Regions from separate parts of the Homo sapiens genome. Here region 2 is linked to region 1. The links come from fine-mapping of genetic effects on gene expression. A gene starts in region 1. The other region holds a variant in brackets. All regions are shown on one strand. Distances are between the middles of the regions.

The links. PIP is the estimated chance that this variant, and not a neighbour inherited with it, causes the effect.
Region 2: its variant is fine-mapped to the expression of SUSD2 in Th2 cells (Schmiedel 2018, PIP 0.95).

Annotation. Positions count from the first base shown.
Region 1 is chr22:24,180,053-24,182,949 of GRCh38, reverse strand. SUSD2 (sushi domain containing 2) reads right to left here and starts at 1,463. Exons shown (of 15, transcript NM_019601.4): 1 at 1,355-1,463. The coding sequence starts at 1,430.
Region 2 is chr22:24,088,800-24,091,696 of GRCh38, reverse strand. It overlaps CABIN1 (calcineurin binding protein 1), which reads right to left. Exons shown (of 37, transcript NM_012295.4): 24 at 1-114. Among named protein-coding and RNA genes, the nearest start is that of CABIN1, 79 kb to the right of the region's middle. RefSeq lists an enhancer at 1-422. The variant AT/T (reference allele first, on the strand shown) is at 1,179.

The DNA.
Region 1 (2,897 bases):
CAGGAGAACGCTGGCCAGGAACTGCACAGGCCACCAGGTGGACACAGTAGAAAGCCACAGGGCCCGTGGGGATGGGATGAATCTTAGCACAGACCATCTGGCTGTTGCCCTGACTGACGGGCTAGAATGCAGCGAGAAGAGGCAAAAAGCTGCATCCGCTCAGCCCTGCAGGGTCAGGAGAAGCCCCTGGGCATGACTGCCCTTCAGCCACCAAGTCCTCTATCCCACAGGCAGGGGTCCTCAGTGGGCCACGGTAGCTGGAGCCCTCGACCTCTCTTGGCTCCCCAGGGTGTCTGTGGTCAGCACGCCTTCTGGGGGCCCTGAAGCCTGCAGAAGAACCCCTCTTGCTTGCCTGGACTGGGGTGGGGGATATGGCTGCCAAGAGTCTCATTTGAGGCCTGGTAGGGAATGGTGCAGGGTCTGAACGTGACACTTCTCGCTCTCCCAGGGGCTGCAATTGAGACCCCAAAGAGAGCTCCGTGCTCAGGGCAGAAGGCCAGGGCCGCTCCCCTCCTTTCTGGGGAGAGGAGGGACATTTCAAGCAGGGGTCCCAGCAGTGGGGAAAGGGAAGTGGGGGTGCACACCACAAGGGGCTGTGGGCGCCGGGCCCAAAACTTCTCCTATGGGCCATAAGACCGGTGGGCAAGGCCATATTTCCAGGGGCTGGCATGAAGGAAGGGTTGCAGGGAGGGACTGGGGCAGGTGCATGCACCCAGGCTGGAATTGCACTTCCCTGGCCCTTCCCCATCCCCCATCAAAAGAGGCCAGTCGAGGGCCAGGCCTGGGCCTGAGCCACCCCGCTGGCCCCACTTCACCAAGTGCAGTGCCTGGCACTTAAAAGCAACAATAAATATGTACTGGCCAAGGATTTGGTGGCGCACAGGGGTCGGGGGAGGAGGCCGAGAGATGCTTGCAAGTGAGATAAGTGGCAAGAGGGTCGATGGGAAATGGGGTGGGGGACGGGGGGCAGCCTGGGACCAGTGTCCTGGTTCTGGAGTTCGGGGCTTTCCCTAGACTTTCCTGGATTCAGCCCCACCCTGATGAGGACCCACAATCCTGGCTCCCCCTCCGTGATCCCGCCCTGTCAGGGCTGGGGACACAGGCGGAGGCCTCTGCTGGTCTCCCCCGCCTCCCTCCTAGCTACCAGCAGGTTTAGGGTGGGCCCGGCTCAGACCTCCCATCCCCATGGGCTGCCCCTCCACATGGACCCTCAGAATTTCTTCCCATCACCCCTAGCACAGCCACAGATGGCCTGACAGATGGACAGAGGCTGAGCCCAGAGGGATGTCAGCCCAGGCCTGGCTGCAGACAGATGGACAGACAGACGGGGACACAGAAGGGCAGGGAGGCATACCTGCTGTGGGTCCGGGGCCCGGGCCGAGGGCTGTCGCCAGCAGCAGCAGGGCCCAGGGCAGGAGGGCTGGCTTCATGGTGCAGCCTGTGTCTGCAGCCAGCAGTGCAGTGGCTCCGAGGCGAGGCGGCCAGACAAGCTCACTCCCTGCTGGCCTGGCCCCGCCCGCCCTGCACTCTGCGGCACCGCCCCGCCCCGCCCCTCCCCGCCCCTCCCCACCCAGTCCCCTCTCAAAGTCCACAGGTGCCTGCGTGGACCAGCAAGGCCCAAGTTGCCCCGTTAGCACATTCCTGGCCCGCAGGCCTGGATCGGCCCTGGGACCCTGTGGGAGGGTGAGGAGGCCGGAGCCTCCAGCCACAGGACCTTTGGCAGGCGATGAGCCGGATGTCCAGAGGGCGAAGCTCAGACCCTGGGTCCCAGCCCCGCCTTGCATGCAGGGCGAGCCCGGCGGGGCTGAAGCAGAGGATGGGATGCGCAGGGTGAATAAGGCAGGGCTGTTTTAGCTCCAGGGAGGATTCCAGACTCTGTGGCCCTGACATAGACCTCCATCTCTAGCCCTCATCTTCCTGCAGGAAGGAGGTGCACCCAACTCATCCTCAGGGGGAGGCAGGAGCTGTTTGGGTCAGACACAGGCTGAGCCCTGGGGCGGAGGCAGCTCTGCAGGGGTCCCCTCTGGAGGGAGGAAGGAGGAAGGGGAGAGAAGGTACCCAAGCCCAGCGGGGGGCCCGGAAGGGAGACAGGGCCCATCCCCGGGCTCCAGAGATGCCACCACCCTGGGGAGCCTTGGCTGTCCCAGCCACACCTAATCCTGCCGCTAAGAGTTTGCATAATTTAATCAGTATTCACCTCCCTTCTTGAGCAGATGAGGAAACTGAAGCTCAGATGCGGATAGGCAAGGCCGAGCCAGGCCCTTGGTGGCTTCTGGGAGCCCCTGCAGCCAGGGCGGGTGGTAAGGGCTGCGGCCTGGGACTGGTCATTTGGACCCTGACACCTGGGCTGGACATCCAGACAGGCGGGTGGTCCTCTCCCAGCTGCAGCTTCTCAAGGTGTCCAAAAGGGACCCTTGCCACACTTGCAGGGAGTCAGAGGTGGCCCCAGGGCATGAGCTTAGGCCATCCGGTCTGTGATCTGCCCCAGCGCTTGCGGCCAGGCCAGCCCATTGTTCCCCGGCCTGTTCTCTCTCTTGCCTGGGTGGTGCCTGCTGGGAACCACAGGGTGTTGGCAGCCACCCGTGGCTCCAGAGAGGTGGCCCCTACTGAAAGTGTTAGAGGCGTGTGCTGGGGGACTTGGCTCCTGAGTCCCCACACAGAGCTGTTCCAGGGAAGCCACACCCGCATTTGATGTTTTCCCACCTCCCAAAGACATTTGGTGAGAGGCCCCCAAGACCTTCAGCTTCTCAGGGACTGTCTCCAGAGGGGAGAAAGTCCCTTAACCCACAATGGCGCTCAGGGCACCTCTGCAGGTGAGTGTCCTGTAAGTGGACGCTCAGGTGCTGAGCCAGGGAGAGCCTGTCTCCTGGCCCCAGGCTGGCGAGGGCATTCATCCC
Region 2 (2,897 bases), 91 kb after region 1:
GCCCAGCATGTAGTGGATGAGCCACTCCTCCTCGTCACCATCACCCTCGCAGCGGGCTGCTGATGTGAAACAGTGCTTGGCTGTCTCTAGCATGCTGTCGCGCCGGCCCTCCATCTGTAAGAAGATCATGAGACTGGGCTGGCCTTACGCCTGAACCTGCCCAGGGATCAGACTTTTTCCTGTACAAAGCTCTGCCGACCTATTTGCAAGTTTATACTCCTCTTAACAACCAAGACACAGAAATGCCCTCACCATTTCACAGCTGGTGACACCGAAGTGTAGAAAGGCCTAGGGGTTTCTCAAAAGCGCCCACCAAGCAAGGCATAGAGCAGGACTTAAACTCAGGTCACCCCATGTCAACCAGGGTACTTTTTTCTGCTTTCCCCCTGCAGCATCTAATGCAGATTCACCTAGCACCCTGCTCCACAGCACTGGAGAGGACATTTACTAACACTCAGCACCCAGCCCTACGGCACTGAAGAGGGCATGTATTTAGCACCCAGTTCCACTGCACAGGAGAGGGTGTGTACCCCTGGGGTACAAGAGGACTTCCCACCATCTCCTCTGTGCTCTTTAAGACAGATGTGGAGTACTTGTAGAAGGGCAAATTCCTGAGCCCCACTTAAGAGCCACTGACTGGGAGTCTGCATTTGCAGCAAGCACCTCCAGCCACCCTCTCACAGCCTGAAGGAAGGAAACAGCTAGCTAGGAAGGAAGGAAAAGAGGGTCACCTTTTAAGAGGCACTACTTTCCAATACTGGTCAGCTGCCAGCCAAATTCATGACCCCTGATTCCAGAACTCTGGGCTGGAAGCTAGAGAGAAGCCTGCATGTGCAAGCCCACAGAGCTGCTCTGAGCAGCCCAGGTCTCTGATCCCTCCTCTCTGTGGTCCTGGATTGATAGCAGGGAAGCCAAAGTCTCTTCTTGCCTGACCTCAGGGGCCAGTGAGAGGGGATGAGTCTGCAGGCACTAGTCTCTGGCAAGGGCAGCTGCTGTGGCCTGCAGGAAGTGCCTCATGTTCTCATCCAGCCAGGTTGAGCCGGCCCTTGGATGTCTCTCCAGTGGGTGCTTGTTTATGTGAAAACCCTGTAGCAATGGCCCCAGGACTGAAATAAGGGAGCAATGTGCTACCCAGTGCTCTGTTAGACACTTCTCAGGAAAAAAAAAAAAAAAAAAAA[AT/T]GACCACACAGGAAGTGGGAGATCATCAATGGGTGAAATACAGTGGAAAGCATCACAGTGCAGGGTCAAACACGGGACCAACCAAGTGACTCCATCACATCCCCTTCAAGATGGGATTCTGTGGCAAATGTGCTGAAGTAAAAGGCAATGGCTAAAAGGATGTCCTTCTACTTGAATTGCTTTGTAGCTGTGTGACCTGGACCAAGTCACTAGCCCCCCTGCCCACCCTGTTCTGCCACTGGCACCTGTAACAGCCACCTGCCAAGAAAGAAAGGGTAGCTGTGAAGTGGCCCATCTGGGCTGGCATCTGGTACCATGCAGACCCTTGGGAAGAGGCTAAGCCCCCACCCCTTCCCCATACAGGGCACAATGCCAATGTCCCTGTCCTTGTGGTGTGGAGGTCACAATACCTCAGACAGGAAAAGGAGGGACAGTCACTGAGGGCCTGCTGTGTTTCAGAAGCTCTACTAGACACCATCTCACTACCTTGCCATCCTCAGAGCAGAATAGGCACCTCATTCACCTTGCATATGGGGTGCCCATGAGAGGGGCTCAGGAAATGGCTGATGGCAGGTGTTCCCAATGAACTCTCACAATACTGCCTTGGAGAAGGAACCACAACAGGAATGTCAGGTTACTGCTTCCAGGTCATACAGCTAGAACGCTCTGGCTCCAAAGCCTTTCCCCTTGCCTGAGAACTGACATCATGGGGAAAGCATTTGTTCTCCTACACCACCACCTCTGAGGAGTTTCTGGGCAAAAGCTGAAGCACACAGCAGCTCGAACAGCTGCCAACATGTGTCCTGCAGCCCATCCTCCAGACACAATAAATCCAGACAGAAAAGTAGCAATCAGGGGACTGTGTCCTCGTGACACATTTCAGGGTTGGAAGCTGTCTCTCCAGAGGTGGAAAAAACCCAGGAGGCACAAGGCAGCTCTGCAAGGTAGTTTTCACCCTCGGCAACTATGAAACACCTCCCCCTACCTTCCCTCCCTCCCTGTCGGGACATCTGCATTCCTGGTGGATTTCCATCTCTCTCCTGCCACCCTAACACTCCAACAAGATGGCTTGGGAACCCAGTTTCAGGACCTGAGCTTCCTGGGCCAATGGCTTCCATAAGATCAACACTGAGTTCAGTCCCAAAGGTTATGAGCCTAAGTAGAGGAAAGAACAAAGCAAAGGGAAAAAGTATGTGGAAACTTGAGCTCAGTCTCCTTACCCACTCCCTGACTTCCCTGCTCCCTTCCTGGGGGAACCTCTACAAACAAAGCTCTACAAACAAGTGCCAATGGCAGAAAGGGAACTCTGACTTCTCACCCTATTTATTTCCTGGAAAACTCCCACTCTGCCAAATCTCATTTGCCATCATTGGTGGGAGATTAGGGAGAAAATCCCAAGAACCATGATCAGCTCAGCCCACTGAGCCCCAGCAGAGGATAATGGTGCTCCTGCTGTTACAAGGAAGGCCTCTTGGGGAGTCAGGCTCTGCATCCTAGGGCAGCAGCTTCAGTCCCCAGCCTGCCCAACTCTGGGGCCACTGCAACACAAACAGAATCCCGCAAGGGACTTTAGTGCAGAACAGTTACAATAAAATAGGGTTACAGCAGTTAAAAGGAATGTACTAGATCCACAGGAATTATCATGGATAGAACTCAACAGTGTGGTGCTGAGTGAAAAAGGAAGCTGAGTACCATACACAGTGTGATAGCATTTAGAT